3 linked regions of the Homo sapiens genome follow. The protein of the gene in region 2 interacts with the protein of the main gene of each other region in a pairwise test. Each region holds a gene or a part of one and is shown on either strand. Other genes may lie near its edges.

Region 1 (3,118 bases), on a different chromosome or scaffold from region 2:
ACAGTCTTTTTTTCAACACTTTTATTAACAAAAGTAAACATGGACAGAACACACTGCCATTTCTGGGAAGAGTAAAGATGATAAAAAATAATTTTAATGGTTCTTAATGTGGAAATTCACAACATACTCAACTTTTGGGTTTTGTTCTCACAGTATTTTTCACAAAAAAAGGGTAAACTTATTCTATTGACAGACATGGTGTACTGATCAGAAATGTTCAGTTTTAACTAAAACTAAATTTATGTTATTTGGCTAAATGTTATGATGCAGTCTAGTACGAGTATTGCATCTAATTCCAGGAGCATTGTTTTAAGTTGATTGACTAGTTATTATGTACATTTCAGAATGTACACATAAATACTGTGATGAAAATCATGTGATTGGGATCTACTGTGATGTTGTCTTCAAAGGCAGGAGAAAATAATGTTCACAATAAAATGTGCTAACAATGTTTTGTTTCTATCAGCTGTTGCAATGCTGATATATTTCTAGTTCAGTGAAATAATTTGTAGTAACCTTACTCTGAGGTTTTACGGTCTGATAATGAAGCACTTGCATGAGTATAGTAAGTCATGTTTTTTTGTTCAAATTTAAAAGCCCTGCTAATTGCATGACACACCACATAGAATGTATACTAGCAGATACTATCCAGTGAAGCATAAATTAGAATTTAATTTGATGTTCAAAAACAGTTCCATTTTTAAGGGTTAAGGTGGTATTTTCAAGAAAAGGCAGAACAAATAATGCAAAATTCTCAGTAATAGTGATACATGGATATACTTCCTTTTAAATTCTCAGCTGCAAAATAATTGTAGACAAAATAATGGCATTTAACTAAAGATGGAGCATGATCTAAGTACATAGCACATGTGAATAAAAGAAAAGCTGACAGTATATTCTGGTTTCAATAAAATGACCTATCAGAAAGTAGAATTTCATCCCCAAGAGTATTTCAGTTTATCCAATATTGAGTAAGTTCTGAAACAGTTTTAGAAAAAATTTTCTTTTTGTTAAATGTGATGCACTGATCAATTTTTGTCACAGCATTTTCATACCTTCATGGTGGACTACTAGTCACTGCTTCCATAAATATTGTTTACAGGGTGAGATTTGGTTTATTCATCTTAAGTGCTGTAGCAAACTGTGGTTCGAGCAACCTGTGGGAAATCTGTGAGAGGGAATGGGGTGGGAGATGTGGGGGAATGGTGGTCAGACTGATGACAGATCCTAGACCAATGTAAAGAATGTGTATCTGTATATAAATAATTTATCAAATAGTTTTCTCTTTGTGTCTGTGTTAGTGTTTTTAAAGCTGCTCATTTCATTTTGTCCAACCAAAAAGAAAAGGGAGATAACTAATGAGCTTCTAGTGATGTTCAAAATTGCTGTTAATAGGCATTATACCCTGCAAGTTCACTGCATGTCTGATGCTTGGTAAAACTAGTCTTCCCTGTAAAATGCAGATTACAGGTATTAAAGCAATCTAGTGGTATACCCGCCCCTTGCCTTAGTAAGAGGAGCAGTGAAATGTATATAGTTGATGTTCAGTATTTCCAAGTACCATTTTTATATAGTAGCTTATTTGACCATAAGTCACACATCAAAAAAAGATTACCCTTAGTGTATGTGTTTTAATATTAGAAAATTGGCATATGTACTTTATTTTTGAAAAGGGAAGAGATGGGTGTGGGGTGGCAATAGCATTGTGCCATTTTGTCATAGAATGTAAAAATTGGTTAACTTTACAAATGTCAGCTAGTTTTGACTACTAATTGGGGGAAATTTTAGATAATTTTTAAATTCAAAGTTATTTATAAAATGCTAGAATTTGTTTTAATTTTTTGTATTTTGAGCCACTTCACATGAAGACTCAGTTGCATTTTTATCGAATACATTTTTATCAACAGTTAAAGACTATGGTGGTTTTTTCAGAGTTTGGCTAAGAATGTTGTTACCATCTTCTTTGTTTGTGGTACAATATTTTCAGTGCAAAAGAGATGTCATTCAGTTAAAAAGACAAACCTCTAGATGTGTAATTACATGGAAAATACTAGCAATGTGAATGCTTTTGTAGTAACCATCTTGTAGTACCTGTGAAATCTATAACTCAGAAATGGTCAGATGGTCAGGAGCCAGCTATGCAGCAGTATACCATCTGTTTAATTATTTTGTAGGTCCTGTGTGTGGAACCAACTATAAACCCAGTTCTAAAGTTGTGTATGATGGTGAACCTTTGGGAATAGTTCTTATCAACTTAATTGGATACTTTTAGCAAATAGGAACTTAATTCTCAGCACTGAACATGAATTACTTCCTTGGAGTTTTTTTTCATTCATATTTTTGTTGTTTCCAGGAATTTATTTGATATTAATGGGCGTAAAACAGCATCATTGTACTTAAGCTATGGATGTTTTTATTTTATATTTTCTTTATTTATAACTGTGCCAAGTATTATTTTGCTACTTACCGTGTTATTCTGTGGAAAGAAAAACCTGTAAAGTGTTTAATAAATTAGCCCTCCTTACATAAATTAAATGTCAAAATTTTGTAAAATATTAATCAGAATAAATACTGACTCTTAAGTGTGTGCTTATGATTTCACTCAATTTACTTCAGGAAATTGATGAAATGATAGTGGTACCTATGATATGAAAAGATTATACATTTATATCCTGGTTAACTAGGAGTCAAGTGGCATAAGACTGTAGGAATTTGGAAAAATAAAAGATGGTGTTAGTATTCTAAAAAAAAAAAAAAATTTCCAATCCTGTGTGTATGCATGTGTGTGTGTGTGTAATTTTTTTTTAAATAAAGATAATAAATTTTTTAAGAATTTTTGAATTCCATGTAGTTAATTAGGATCCTCAGGGACTGTATGAATCTCCAAGTTTTAAATATGTCTAAAGATACTAAAGAAAAATATTGCAAAATGTACTATATAAAGAAAAATACTGCAGAATGAAACCTACCAAACGTTGATCTCAGTTACTTGAGAAGATATGCGTGGCAGAGAGAACTTCTTTATTTGGGACTTTAAAAGGCAAAAATTATTAAGGAACTGTTTCCTGTTGTTCCAGTGGTTGTTAATGGTTTGAGAACCCAGTGGTATTAAACAGGA
Region 2 (7,902 bases):
AATTTTTTTGTATTTTTGGTAGAGACAGGGTTTCACTATGTTGGCCAGGCTGGTCTTGAATTCCTGACCTCAATTGATTCGCCCGCCTAGGCCTCTGAAAGTGCTGGGATTACAGGCGTGAGCCACTGTGCCCAGCCTTTTTTTTTTTTTTTTTTTAACACGGAGTCTCATTCTGTTGCCCAGCCCGGCGCGATCCTGGCTCACTGCAACCTCAGCCTCCTGGGTTCAAGTGATTCTCCTGCCTCAGCCTTCCCAGTAGCTGGGATTACAGGCATGCACCAACACGCCCAGATTTTTTTTTTTTTTTTTTTTTTTTTTTTTTTTAGTAGAGACAGGGTTTTACCATGTTAGCCAGGCTAGTCTCGAACTCCTGACCTCACGTGATGTGCGTGCCTCGGCTTCCCAAAGTGCTGGGATTACTGGTGTGAGCCACCACGCCCAGTTTTTTTTGTTTGTTTGGTTTTTTTTGAGACAGAGTCTCACTCTGTCGTCCAGGCTGGAGTGCAGTGATGCTACCTCAGCTGACTGCAAACTCACTGAACCTCTCAGGTTCAAGTGATCCTCCTGCCTCAGCCTCCAGTTCCTGGCTAATTTTTTTAGTTTTCGTATAAACGGGGTTTCATCGTGTTGGCCAGGCTGGTCTGTAATTCCTGGCCTCAAGTAATCCACCCACCTCGGCCTCCCGAAGTGCTGGGATTACAGGCGTGAGCCACTGCGCCTTGTCTGCGCCCAGTTTTTGTTTGTTTTTTAAAGAGACGGGATCTCACTATGTTGCCCAGGCTGATCTTGAAGTCCTGGGCTAAATTTTTGTCACTGTGCCTGGCTAATTTTTGTATTTTTAGTATAAATGGGATTTCACCACATTGGCCAGGCTGGTCTCAAACTCCTGGCCTCGTGATCCACCTTCCTCGGCCTCCCGAAGGGCTGGGATTACAGGCGTGAGCCACCGCGCCTGGTCTGCGCCCAGTTTTTGTTAGTTTTTTACGGAGATGGGATCTCACTGTGTTGCCCAGGCTGGTCTTGAACCGCTGGGCTCAAATCATCCTCCTGCTTCTGCCTCCCAAAGTGCTGGGATTACAGGCTTGAACGACCATGCCTAGCCATAATTATCCAGCTATAAGGTCAGCTGATTAATTCGTCTCTCTATATAATAACATATTCACAGGTTGGGAGATTAAGATGAGAACATCTTTGGAGAGGACATTATTCTGCCTTTTAGAGAGAAGGGCCTAGGACAGGAATTCCCAGTGCTCAGGTTTAAAGGAAATATGATGTTCCCATCATCGGTACATGAACGTGCCCCTTTCTCTGCATTCCTACCAACACTGGATATTTTCCACTTTTGGGACTTTTAGCAGTTGTTGAGCCAGCCCATTTTACAGCGGGGATAATTGAGGTTTAAGGAGGGGAAATTACTTGCCTAAGATCTCATGCAACTTTCTGTTTCCTGACTCCCAGTCAAGTCTGATTCTCCCTTGGTATGGCTTATATGGGAGGATATTTACCTGGTGGCTTGGAAACCACTGAATGACTTTGTATCTTCCATCCATCCATGTATCCGCAGCCCAGCGAATGTATATTGGGAGCCTCAGACATGTGACCAGGGCCTTGTGGGCCAGAGGCAGCCAGGAGACCTTTTTTTTTTTTTTTTTTTTAAGACAGAGTCTCCCTCTGTCACCCAGGCTGGAGTGCAGTGGTGCGATCTTGGTTCACTGCAACCTCTGCCTCCCGAGTTCAAGAGATTCTTCTGCCTTAGCTTCCTGAGTAGCTGGAATTACAGGCGTCCATCACCATGCCTGGCTAATTTTTGTATTTTTAGTAGAGACGGGGTTTCACCATGTTGGCCAGGCTGGTCTCCAACTCCTGACCTCAAGTGATCCACCCACCTCACTCTCCCAAAGTGCTGGGCTTACAGGTGTGAGCCACAGCGCCTAGCCAGTGCTCTTGTCTTTTGAGAGCCCCCTTTTCTCTCACCTGATCTCCCTGCCCCCTATTTTCCCCTTTAGTCTCCTTTCCAGACGCTACTGAGTAGCTTCAGGGTCAGTCTAGAGATGCAATCCAGGTTGGGATCCTTGCTGGGAGAGCCCTTCCTTCCCTGGCTTTGTAACTCAGGGCCTTCTGGTGTGCACACCTGCAGGGTCCAGGCTGGGCCTGTGCTTCTAGCTTCTCTGTGTCTCTCCCTGAGATTGGAATCCTGGCTCTGTCCTCAACTAGCTTGAAGGGGGGCCCCCAGGAATGGCCCCTTCTGGATTTCATACCCTTGTGTAACCTTGTTTCACTTTTTAAAAGATTTTATTTAAAAAGTTTTTTTTTTGTTAGAGACAGGGTCTCACTTTGTTGCCCAGGCTGCTCTCAAACACCTAGCCTCAAGCAGTGCTCCTGCCTCAGCCTCCCAAAACACGCCCGTTCACTTTCTACCAGGGTTGTGTGTGACCAGCAGATGTGTTGGAAGTGATGGTGTGTCACTTCTGAGGTTAGGTCATTAAAGACGCAGCGGCTTCTATCTTGTGTGTGTTCTCTTTTTCTTGGGCCACTCGCTCTGGGGAAAGCCAGCTGCTGGGGCTTGAAAACACACACGCCTGGGAAGAGGCCGCACTGGTGAGGGACGGAGGCCTCCAGCCCACAGCTGTGGGAACGTGGGAATGAACCTTTTAGGAAGTGAATCTTTCGGCCCTGCTCTAGCCTTTAGATGACTCAGTCCTGGCAGCATCTTGATGGCAACTTCACAAGAGAGCCTGAGCCAGACCACCCAGCCTGGCCTCTCCTGGATTCCAGACCCGCAGGAGCCATGAGTTTCTTTGTTGTTTTACACATCAAAGTTTTGAGGCAATTTGTTACACAGCAGTATATAACTAATACACCAGCTGTAGGGCTTTGGGCACGTTCCTTAGCCTCTGCACCCCCGTTTCCTCCCTCGTGCCATGAGCATTGTAGAGGCGAGTGAGGAACACGTAGACGCAGCACAGTGCCACGCACATGAGGCAGCTTTCCAGCCCCTCCCGGGATGGTTGTGGTCATTTTCTTGCCCCTCCCTGGATGGACCGTGACCTCACAACGTCAGGCCAAGTTATTGCATTCTTGGCCTGAGGTCATCCATTGGCCATAGACAGAGGTTCTCGGCAGGAAAGGGTGAGATAAAGAGAGGGGTCAGTCTCTTTCCTCCAGCCCGGGTCGGGAGAACCGTGCTGGGCCAGGTGAGACATCCGCTGTCTGTGCGGTGTCCTGGGATGAGCCACTGGACCTGACCCATGGGGAGATTTGTCTGTGTCGCCAGAGGGCGAGGGGTTTCCTGGTCTAGCTTGCCTTGGGCTTGGCCAAGCATTCTGGCTGCCACTGGGGCCCCCAGGACAACTGAGAACTGTCCTTTCTTCTTTGACCTTCAGCTGCCCCTCTCTCCCCTGTCCCCTGGTGCCTGCTCAGATGCTTTCTTCTTGTGACCCTTGACCCTTGGCCCTTGGCCCCTGCCCCGAGGCTCCTCCACCCTGGGCTCCGTGTTCTAGAGTTCACTGTGTACTAGTTCCTCAAGCTGTTTGTCCTTCACTGCTTCCGATTTTTCTGTGCATTACTCAAGAACTGCATGGGCATGTGTCAGTATAAAAAAAAATAAAGTTGGCCGGGCGCGGTGGCTCACGCTTGTAATCCCAGCACTTTGGGAGGCAGAGGCGGGCGGATCACGAGGTCAGGAGATTGAGACCACGGTGAAACCCTGTCTCTACTAAAAATACAAAAAAATTAGCTGGGCGTGGTGGCGGGCGCCTGTAGTCCCAGCTACTCGGAGAGGCTGAGGCAGGAGAATGGAGTGAACCCGGGAGGCGGAGCTTGCAGTGAGCCGAGATCGCGCCACTGCACTCCAGCCTGGGCGACAGAGACTCTGTCTCAAAAAAAAATAAAGTTGGCCGGGCGTGGTGACTCACACCTGTAATCCCAGCACTTTGGGAGGCGGAGACAGACAGATCACTGGAGTTGGAGACCAGCCCCTGGCCAACATGGTGAAACCCTGTCTCTACAAAAAAATACAAACATTTGCCTGTGTGTGGTGGCACATGCCTGTAGTCCCAGCTACTCGGGAGGCTGAGGCAGGAGAATCGCTTCAACCCGGGAGGCGGAGGTTGCAGTGAGCAGAGATCGAGCCACTGCACTCCAGCCTGGGCAACAGAGCAAATTTCCATCTCAAAAAAACCAAAAACCCAAAACAAAAAAACACAAAAAAACATTATCGACATTAACAACTACAAGGCGCCCGGCTAATTGTATATTTTTAGTAGAGACAGGGTTTCTCCATGTTGGCAGGCTGGCCTCGAACTCCTCACCTCAAGTGATCCGCCCGCCTCGACCTCCGCCTCCCAAAGTGAGCCACCGTGCCCGGCCGTGAATGTGACTTGATAGCCCAGATTTCCTTCCGTGAACGCTTGTTAGTTGTGAAACTAGCAAAGTTGCGCCTCTGAGTTTACGCAGAGCCGGCTCCGGAATCCGAGTTCCGGGTTCGAGCACAGCTCCGCCGCTACCTCGGGCGTGACCTTGGCCGGAGCCTGGTCCCCTCTGAGCCTCAGTTTCCCGGTCTGGGATGCCGGAATGACAGCTCGCCCCCTGCCCCGCCCAGCCCCGCCCAGCCCCGCCCCGCAGGCCCTGGGATTGGTTCGCGCGAGGTCCCCCTCCCCAGGCGGGGTCGGGCCTCTCCCGCCCGCCAGGCCCCAACCCGGAAATGCAGCTGGAGCGGAGGCGGAGCCCACTAAGGCCGCGGCGGAGCGACGATGGGCGCGGCCAATGGGCGCGGGCGTCGGCTGCGGCGCGACGGAAGTCCTGCCCGGCGCCGCGCGGGGGCGGGGCGGCGCCGGGGGCGGGGGGCGGCGGGCGACGGGGCGGGCGCAGGATGAGGGCGGCCATTGCTGGGGCTCCGCTTCGGGGAGGAGGACGCTGAGGAGGCGCCGAGCCGCGCAGCGCTGCGGGGGAGGCGCCCGCGCCGACGCGGGGCCCATGGCCAGGACCACCAGCCAGCTGGTGAGCGCGCGGCGGCGGACTGGACGCGCCGGTTTGTTACCCTGCCGGGTCCGGCGGCCGCCCGGGTCCGGCGAGGCGGGGCGGCCCGGGGTCCCGAGGGCCGGGTGCCTCCTTACCTGCAGCCGGGCGGCCGGGCCGGGGATGGCGGGCGCCGGCCGAGGGCGCTGCTTGGCTGCGGCGGGGAGACCGGGCCTGGGTTGCGGCGGGCGGCGGCCTGGCCGGGGGCGCTGACAGACGCGCGGAGGGCGGGGGAGGCCGGGAGGTGTCACCCGGCCCAGCGGGGTGGAAGTGCCTGGAAAGTTTGTTTTCGGCTTGGCGCAGCCTGGAGCCGAGCCTCCAGGGTTACCTTTCGGTTCTGTCTGTAGAGGAACCGCCCTGGGCTTCCACCTGGAACGGGGTCCTTGGCGCCTCCGCCTGCGAGAGAAGCAGAAGGTGCAAGTTCTTGCTGAAAGCACCTGATGCTCCTGGGCCCCCTTTTCCAGATTCTTGATGACAGTGGTCGGGAAAACTCGCCTTTCACGGCCCGGCCAAGGGGCATTTGGGTGCTTTTGCTGCCCGTGGCTGTGCTCAGCGTTGTGGGAAGCCCCTGGGAGGCCGAATGTGCAGGATCACCGAGGGGAAAGTGAGCTTGACAGGTAGGAGGGATTTTAGGGGAAGGACCAAAACAAACCACTTGTTGGGTGAAATGTTTTGCTAAAAGTGTCGCTGGTGTTTCTATATTTTCTCTCTATCGCTAAAAGTATCCCTCGTGTTTTTATGTTTTCCATATGCTAAGTTCTACAGTCTGGGGACGACGGTTTAAAAATTTATGCCTTGTATGCGATGTGCAGTGGGTGATGGAAGAACGTCTACATGGCTTTAACATTTGATTTAAAAGGCAAATATTTTAAATGAAGGAAAACCCAAGAAATTTAATTGATCCCGTGTCTTCCAGGATGCGGCTTTTTTTTTTTTTTTTTTTTGATGGAGTCTCCCTCTCGACGCGCAGGCTGGAGTGCAGTGATGCGATCTCAGCTCACTGCAACCTCCATCTCCCGGGTTCAAGCGATTCTCCTGCCACAGCCTCCTGAGTAGCTGGGATTACAGGCGTATGCCACCATGCCCGGCTAATTTTTGTATTTTTAGTAGAGAAGGTGTTTCGCCATGTTGGCCAGGCTGGTCTGGAACTCCTGACCTCAAGTGATCTGCCCGCCTCGTCCTCCCAAAGTGCTAGGATTACAGGCGTGAGCCACCACGCCCGGCAGATGTGGCTTTTTGATAGGCGTTCTTGATCTTTTTTTTTGTGGGGCGGGGAGTGGGGGGTTGTGAGTCTGTTTGAGAACCTGAGGAAAGGTATGGGCCCTCTTCTGAGAAAAAGGCAGAGTGACGCTGAATTTTGTAACTACGTCAGGAGGCTCTTGAACTTTCTGCAGCTCACTCGTGGACTTTGTAGAGATGCGTGTTAAGGAAGAAGGTTCAGCTGAGAAAAATGTTGAAGGGATGCCTTTCGCTATTTCGACATGTGTGGCTGTACACCAGAGTGGCCCGGGTAACATAAAAACATGAATTAGGCGGATTGGCCAGGCTCAGTGGAGGCTGGGGCCGAGAGTTATGTCGAAGTTTGTGAGGTTAACCTGCACCCAGTGACAGTCATGGCGAAATTTGTGAGGTTAACTCGCACCCAGTAACGCTGTTCCAATGCAAGGTGTGTATTTGGTGTCATCCACGGGAAGAGGAAAGAGCAAATTTTCTCATGGCCTTGGCAGTTCCACATGATGGACATTTCATATCTGCAGTTTTCTTCGCATGAGATGGCTTTTTTGCACAAAAACACTGGAATCCAGTGAGCAAGAATGATAGAATGCAAGATGGATTTCCACATGAGGAAGTGTCACGAACGAGCGTTTTGCATCTGTCAGCTGGATTCCCCCATGTGTACGTATGTGAGAACATGCCGTGTTTCCTGTCTGTAATGGTAGAGGCAGCCCTGATCCTGGATTTTCACCTGAGGATGGATAGATCTTCAGGGTTCAAGTGGGTTTGCATCTGGACTTTAGGGTGGCCCTGTAGGCCCTGTGTGAGAAGCCCCCTTCCCAGTGAACTTTCCCTTGTGTGTCCGCGTGGACAGCCAACAGGGGGAGCAGTGCGAGCGTGAAGGCAGACAGTGGCCTGGCCCAGTCTGATGCTAAGTGGGCCAGAGGCAGTGAGTACCATTTCTTGATCTGACTACTCAAGACAGGCGCTTCCCTAGGTACTTTCACACCTCATTGCGAGGTAGGTGTTGTTCCCATTTTACGGGTGCAGAAGCTGAGCTGCAGAGGCGTTAGGTACCTGCCTCATAAGTGGTAGAGACTCCAGTGTCACCCTGCCCCTCACGTTCGGAGCCCCTGAGGGAGGGTCTGCCGGGCAGCTCAGCCCAGCACTCTGTAAGGAAATCTTCAGTGCCACTGCCCAGGATGTCTTCCCAGGGATTGGGCCTGAATGTCTTGACCATGCCGTGCTGGAGGTAGGAGGGGTGTCTTCATATGGAAGAACTGTACATATTTCTTTGGCAGATGGCTGAACTCTGTGACCCCGGGGCCTGTTTCAGCCTCCTGCTGTCAGAAAGCAGCTGTTTGGGAAGAGGCTGTGATTCGGCCTTGTTTGAGGGCCGATACTCTGAATGGGTGAGGCTTGAAATCCTCCCTTTGGAACAAAGAAACATGTAATGATTTTGCTGAAGGTAGAATTGGGGGACTAGGCAGAGTGGCCTCCTGCCCTCCCTAGGGTGGTTCTGTCTTTTGCAAAGGTGGCTGCATCCTTAGGGGAAGGTGAGGGGAGAAGCAGGGAGCATGGAGAGAAGTGGCTTTCGATTTTCTCTCTCCTTTTGGGGAGTTCCTCCTTATGTGGCTGGTCTGGTGCATAGTGTGATGTATTCCTGTACGC
Region 3 (7,036 bases), on a different chromosome or scaffold from region 2:
ATTGATTGATTCAGAAGAATATTTTTTAGAAAAATGAATCATCTTTTCCCTATCAACATCATAACTGTTCTTTTAAACAGGTGTTCATATACTACATTGTGATGAATTTTTGCCAAGTTTAAGAATACAGGGTTTGGAATCAGATAGACCTGGATGTGACTTCTGTTCTACTCACTGTTGTGTAACTATGGACTAGTAATCATATTATTCTGCTTTAACTTTTCATTTAAAGGGGGATAAGAACAGTATCAGCCTATACAAGTAAACTGGATTACATGAGAAAAATACTTTAAGGCTCTAAGCCTGTACTGGTGCACAGAAAGCCCTCCATAACTACCAGCAATCATTATTAATTATTAACATTCAAATCCACAATGGTTTTGGAAGACACAGTACTGGGCACATATGAATAGGTAGATCAGGTATTCTCATTCTCTACATTAGGAAATTCAGGTTCTTGGTTTAAATGACTGATCCAAGGTTACACAGAAAACAAATAGAAGACCACAGATTTCTGATTTTTTCTTGCCATTTTGCTAAGAAATGGGAACTGTCATCTCAGCTTTAAAGATAATAAAATCAGGAAGGAGGACATTTAAACAAAAACACATATACACAGATAATCACTGCAGCATCTTATGTAATATAAAAGCTGGAAACGATTTTCTATCCACAGGGAACTACTAAATAAACTGTGGTACTGTCATACTATGGAGCACCGTGCAGCCATTAAAAGGCATGAGACAGATGTAGGTGTTCTGATATGGAAAAATCTTGAAGACGTATCACTAGTAGAAAAACAAAGTGCAAATAAAACGGGCAGTGTGTACTCATTTATGCAAACATCCTCCCCAACTATATATCTGTACATGTATATTTAAATGTATGAATAGAAAGATGGCTCTGAGGAAGTCTACCAACTACTGATAATGGTAACCTTTGGGTAGGAAAGTGGGATGGGCATGGGATGGAGGGTGATTCATGCTTTATTTACTTATCATGCTTGAATCCTTTTAAGTAAGAAAGAATATAGTATTATTTGACTTATAAATAAAAACATAAAGGCAGAGGGAAATGTGAATTATAATAATGCAGTTGGCATGAACCAACAGACCTCCCAACTTGAGTGTCTCTAGCCCTAACCTGACTTCTACAAAGCTACATAAGCAATGTTAGTTTCACTGAGTTTCCTGTGTGGCTCTCCCACTGTGGTAGGGTCCTTCCTGGTGGTATTTTGTACTTAGGGACCCAAGTTCTATCTTTCAGACCACCTGGGAACTCTCAGCAGCATCTTGCTACAATATTCCCTATTAGAGACATTTACAGCTTTGCCACCCTCTACACCCTTGTGTGTCTGTAGAGGGACATCAAGCTGATCCTTCTACGTCAAGTGGAGGAGGCGGCCTGCCATTCTTTGACCACTTCAGGTTCATTGCTTAGCAAGGATTCATACCAGTGTGATAAGCAATGCTTGATGGAGGAGGTTTTCAGTTCCCCAGTGTTATGGACCAAATTGTGCCCCCCTCCACCCCAATCTATATGTTGAAGCCCTAACTCCTATGTGACTGTATTTGGAGATAGGTCCTTTAAGGAGATAATTAAGATTAAATGAGGTCATAAGGATAAGGTCTTATGGGGCTGGTGCCCTTGCAAGAAGAAAAAAAAATGCCAGAGATTGCGCTCTCTCTTTTCACACTTGCACACAGGAGAAAGGCCATATGAGGACCCAGCAAGAAGTTGGCTATACATGGGAAGAGAGAACTCACCAGAAACCAACCATGCTGGCACCTTGATCGTGGACTTCCAGACTCCAGAAATGTGAGAAAACAAAATTTCTGTTATTTAGGCAACCCAGTATGTGGCGTTTTTAAAAATGCAGTCTGAGCTGACTAATACACCAAGCACAAAGGCCAGTACACCTGAAACACATCCTCCCACAGGTAAGGTACTCTTCGCCACGCTCCGTCCAACAGACCCCATCCTTCTCAGGTTAAAACCTGTTCATAAGGGCCCCTCTAGATTCCTAAACTCCATACATCTTTTTTCCCCTTACACACAGACCCCCACCCCACTTCATTTAACATTTGTTGTAAGCGATCAAGTCATTTACCTCTAAAGCACAGAAGTGAAAGTCTGACTACCCCCATACAAGCACACACCCTTTCTCATTACCCAGGATGACCCTTTCTCCAAAGAAAGCTATGAACATTAACAATTAATATTTCCCACTATTAACTCTTTCCACAGTGAACTTGGAGCAGGAGAACTCAAAGGTTCCTGGGTTATTTCTGACAAAGTTCCTAGTGGACTTATAAAAATAATCTGTGCTTTCTGCGAGATAGTTATGTTGGGGCTGACTTTCAGCCTGATTCTAGAGTTCTATTGGAGTCAAAAGAAGGAAATTTGGTGGTAAAGATGACAAGTTGGGTGAAAGCAAAATCGTCTTCTTATTAATGGAAGATGAGGGGAACCAGCTGGAGAGCCACTCTGGCCAAAGTGAAGCCTCAGACATCTACATATTTATGTGCAAAAGAACATCTGCCATCCCACAGCTGCCTCCGTCATATTTCTCTTGCTGTGGCCCAGGCAACTATATGAGTTGTCATGAGCTGGGAAGAGTGGGTGCCTAGATGGCCCAGCGGGACCATCTCAGCTCAGCTCAGTCTGGGAGCTGCATGCTTACTGTCCTACACTGGGGATGAGTGACATGGAGAAAGCTATTCAAAAAACTCCAGCTAGTTCTCACATCTTGATTGCTCAATTCCATAAACATTTTTTTCTGTTCTTATTATATAACAGAAGAAATCTACAGGAGTAAGTCAGCTAAGAATTCTGTTACTGGGTCGTAGAATTCAGCTTCCTCCCTGTGGGATAATGGAAAAGGCCCAGAGACGTGCACTGCTGTGCTAGGAGAAGATAGATCAAGTAAATCCAGCAGCACCGACCAGGCGCCAATGGGATATATGTGGAGGGTGGAGCACAACTTGCATTTCTCCAAAAGATCCTGAGCAGCATGGGTGAGCAAAGAACATGTGCCAAGAATCCACACAGTCATGAGCTCTAATCTGGTTATGCCACTTACAAGTGAGTATGTTTGTAATACATGTGTATTTGTTATGCAAGTTCCTTTGGTTCTCTGTACCTTGAAATTTCTTATTTTAAAAATGAGGTTAATGCAACCATTCTCTCTGGGTTGTTGATGGAGATTAAATGAGTAAACATAAGAAATACCTAGGAAAATGCCTGGAATAGACAGTACTCGCGATACCTTAGTTTCTTTCCCTCAGCTAAGTGTCGAAATTGGACCCCTATTTCTTCTTAAATGCAAACGCCAAAGTCTAGGAATGTCAGTCTACAGCTGTGCTCTTTTCATTGGGCATTACCAATATTTTGACAGGACTGGCCTAATATTATTCACCCCAGGATCATTGGTACATTTCTGACCAGCACTCATAAAGGGCTTGGGATTGCCCCTGGGGACCTGGATGCTAATAATGAATACTTGCTAGTGATTTTCAATGCATTCTGGTTATTATGTTTAGTAGCAGAACATTTCCCATCCCCAGAAAGGTCATTTACAATAGTGTAAGGCAGCTACTTCTCACCTCGCATTTCAGGTTTCTCTGAGAACAGCAGAGAGCTCAAACATTCATCCATATGCATTGGAAACAGCATTCTGATCTGGCATTTGCATACAAATACCAAAGCAACTTAAGGAACTATGAGGCAGCTCTCCATCATATGACACTACCCCCTTTTATTTTTTCAATGCCTTCCCAGCATCTTCATATCAAAAGCCATTTTCATGTACCTTCCCAGCTTTATTCATTATAAGTTTCCCCTTTCTTGAGCTTATTTGGAATGGGGGATGGAGGAGGAATCTTTACTTCCTCACTTTTACTCTCTGTGGCCCTAAAAAGCTAATGTATTTCACAAATCACTCAGATCTCAAACCTGGAGACGTTCTAAACTCAACTCATCCAAGACTGGACTCTTCTTATCCTACCACATTGCTGAGAAATGGCCATATATTATAGTATTACTTGAATAATATCAGTGTGTGGTTATTTATGCTTACCAAGGCCCTATTCTATTGTGAGGTACTTTTTTGCTACAATTTCTTCATACCAAGCCAAGATCCACTTCCTTGTACTTTCTCACTCATTGGTTCAAATTTTGCCCTGAAATGTTCTTATCTGAGGCATCTCATCTATTCATACAGTTTTAAGTACCTTTAATATGCTGGTGATGTTTAATCTCAAATTTATTATCTAGTCCAGGTCTTTCTCTTGAGCTTCAGACCCAGAAATCCAATTGTCTACTTGCAAGTCTCACTGTGAAACTAGATGTCTCACTGTCTTCTCAAACTAATCAGTTTTCAGTCTGTTTCCGCTTTTAGTGATGCGCCCCATTATGCATCCATTTTCATGGCAAAATTCTGGGAGTTGTCCTTGACATCACCTTCTCCATCTGCACCCAATCATAGTAAGTAAGTGCAATGCAATCTTTCTCTATTACGTATCTTAAATCCATCTAATTCTCTCCATCTCTACTGATGCCACCATCCTGGAGCACACCATGACCTCCTAATTATCTCCCAACTTTCATTCTTTTTCATTACATGCCTGGCTCTCTAACCCCATCCTACACAGCAGCCAGATTAAACTTCTAGAAAAACAAATCTGATCATGTTTCCCTTTTCCTTAATGGCTTTCCATTCATCTTTGGATAGAGTCCAAACTCCTTGTGGTCAACAAGGCTTGATATGATCTGGTCCCTGAATACTTCTCCAGTCTTTTTTTCCCCCAACATTTTATTATGAAAATTCAAACAGACTGCAAAGTGGAAAAAAAATTACAGTGATTATCCATAGACCCACCACCTCAATTTAGTTATTAACTTTTTTTTTGAGATGGAGTCTCGCTCTGTCACCAGACTGGAGTGCGGTGTCGCGACCTCGGCTCACTGCAACCTCTGCCTCCTGGGTTCATGCGATTTCCTGCCTCAGCCTCCTGAGTAGCTGGGATTACAGGCATACACCACCATGGCTGGCCAGTGACTAACATTTTATACTTGCTTTATCATATGTCTATCCATTTACCCATCCCTCTCTCTTAGCATTAATCTTTCTTGCTTCTGGTACATTTCAAAATGAACTGCAGACTCCATTCTCATTTTTATCACTCTTCTCCCTGTTCCTAGCCATAGTCATCTTTCCATTCCTTGAATCAGTTAGGCTATTTTATCTCTCTGGGCTTTTGTACCTATTGTCCCTTCTACCTAAAATGCTTTCAGGTCTTGTTAATTGCAAATTCATCCTTTAGTTCTCAGTTTCAGCTGTCTGAGAGGCTGTCCTTGAACTCCCGATCTAAATTAGATCCACCTTTCCACCTTATGACCCCAAGGCATCTTGTGCCTTTCCTAAATATCACTTATCACAATTGGTAACTATATATTTATTTGCAAAATTATTTGTCTCATACTATCTCCTTTGCTAGATTGAAAGATCCCTGAGGACAGAGACCACGTCTGTATTGGAACATCCCGTATCACCTCTGCAAAACGTCAGTATTTGTTGAAGGAATTAAAGGCAGAATGAATCAATAATTGAAAGGAGCTACTTGGAATAGTAAACTTGTTCTTCCTTTAATATGTATAAACAAGACAGTTTTTTAAAAAGGCTTCTGAGGGAAGGTGGAACCCACTTGTTGCCAGAATATAACCAGGAAGTACATTAAGTAACAATAACAGCTATAATGAATTAAGGGTGGGCTTTGTATTAGGCATATCCCGAGTGCTTGAGTGCTTTCTCTGCATCAAATAATTTTTCTTTGGCATAGGTTCTATTGTTATTCCCACTTTCCAGCTAAGGAAACTGAGAACAGAGCAGTTATTTTAAAACACCCCATCTATGTAGAATATTTGGTCTATCTGTGGCCCCATTTGAAAGTAGGAAGATTAATCTAGAAAACTCACAGACTGCTATAATGGAGATAGGGTTTTACTTGGCTGTAACAGAAGCCTAAAAATATAGCAGGAAACCCACATATAGAGAGATTTGAGAGATGAATCCCTGGTTAGGAAACCTGGGGTTCCATATCTGAAAAAAAAAATCAAACCATTGTGTTGACTTTATTTTTGTGGGAAATTTCAACCCTACCCAAGGCCCTTCCTCTATATAACCCCATACACACACTTCAAATTTTCCCTGCAAAGGATTTTATGCCTGATGGAAATATAGCTTATACACTGAGATAAAACCATTGCAATCTTTCCCAGAATAAGAGCTGATGGTTAAAGGAAAATGAAGTAGTGCAGAATTTCCTAGTGGGAGAACCTGGCCTTCAGACACTGGCTTGAGTTTGAAGACAAGGTTTTCCATTGAATGTGTGACTTTTGGCAAATTAGTAACATCTTCAGACCTCAGTTGCATCAGTTTCCTTCTTTGAAAATGGAAATGACAACATCCATTTAACAGGGTTTAGATATATTGAAATGCTATACATAAAGAGCTCAGCACAGTGCTTGGAACATAGAAGATGCTCAAAGATGTTAACTTTAAAAGAGGAGGAAAGGTAGGGGAGGGTGGTAATTTTCATGCTCAGAATTAAAAAAAAGTCCTAGGAAATTTATTTATTAAATGCACACCATGCATTCTTTTGAGAAAGACAGAGAGAGAGAAAGAGACTGAGAGAGGGGAGCTTGGGTGAAAGTGTCCTTTAGCATTTGCATTGCTCTTAGCTGGATGAACTTGCCTGCAGTCACCACTTACAATGCAAATTGAGTTTAGAGTCCTTCACACTAACTACACAGCAAAAACCTTTCAGCTTTAAATAGAACACTGCAATGTGGAATGATCTGAGCAAACAGAAGAAAAATTCAGAAATACATGTGAAGGAGATATTTTGGAGGAAAAAAAAGAACAATCTGACATAACTGAGCAGGTAGGAGGAAAATGTAGAAATAGTAAAGGAAACAGAAAAGCAAGATCTATGGAAGGACTAGAAGCTAATTCCCCACCCAGTAAGAGGGTATA

The links. Proteins that work in one complex are often made in the same cells at the same time.
Region 1: the proteins of PDPK1 (region 2) and ZDHHC17 interact in binary tests that used the Homo sapiens proteins (3 or more experiments, as listed by UniProt).
Region 3: the proteins of PDPK1 (region 2) and PPP2R2B interact in binary tests that used the Homo sapiens proteins (3 or more experiments, as listed by UniProt).

What each region holds. Positions count from the first base shown.
Region 1 is NC_000012.12:76,851,115-76,854,232, forward strand, and holds the end of ZDHHC17 (palmitoyltransferase ZDHHC17), read left to right. Parts: 3' UTR 1-2,582; downstream 2,583-3,118. UniProt on the Homo sapiens protein: Palmitoyltransferase that catalyzes the addition of palmitate onto various protein substrates and is involved in a variety of cellular processes.
Region 2 is NC_000016.10:2,533,139-2,541,040, forward strand, and holds the start of PDPK1 (3-phosphoinositide-dependent protein kinase 1), read left to right. Parts: upstream 1-4,882; 5' UTR 4,883-4,974; coding exon 4,975-4,998; intron 4,999-5,480; exon of another isoform or gene 5,481-5,633; intron 5,634-6,697; exon of another isoform or gene 6,698-6,912; intron 6,913-7,902. UniProt on the Homo sapiens protein: Serine/threonine kinase which acts as a master kinase, phosphorylating and activating a subgroup of the AGC family of protein kinases.
Region 3 is NC_000005.10:146,868,722-146,875,757, forward strand, and holds part of PPP2R2B (serine/threonine-protein phosphatase 2A 55 kDa regulatory subunit B beta isoform), read right to left. Parts: intron 1-7,036. UniProt on the Homo sapiens protein: The B regulatory subunit might modulate substrate selectivity and catalytic activity, and might also direct the localization of the catalytic enzyme to a particular subcellular compartment.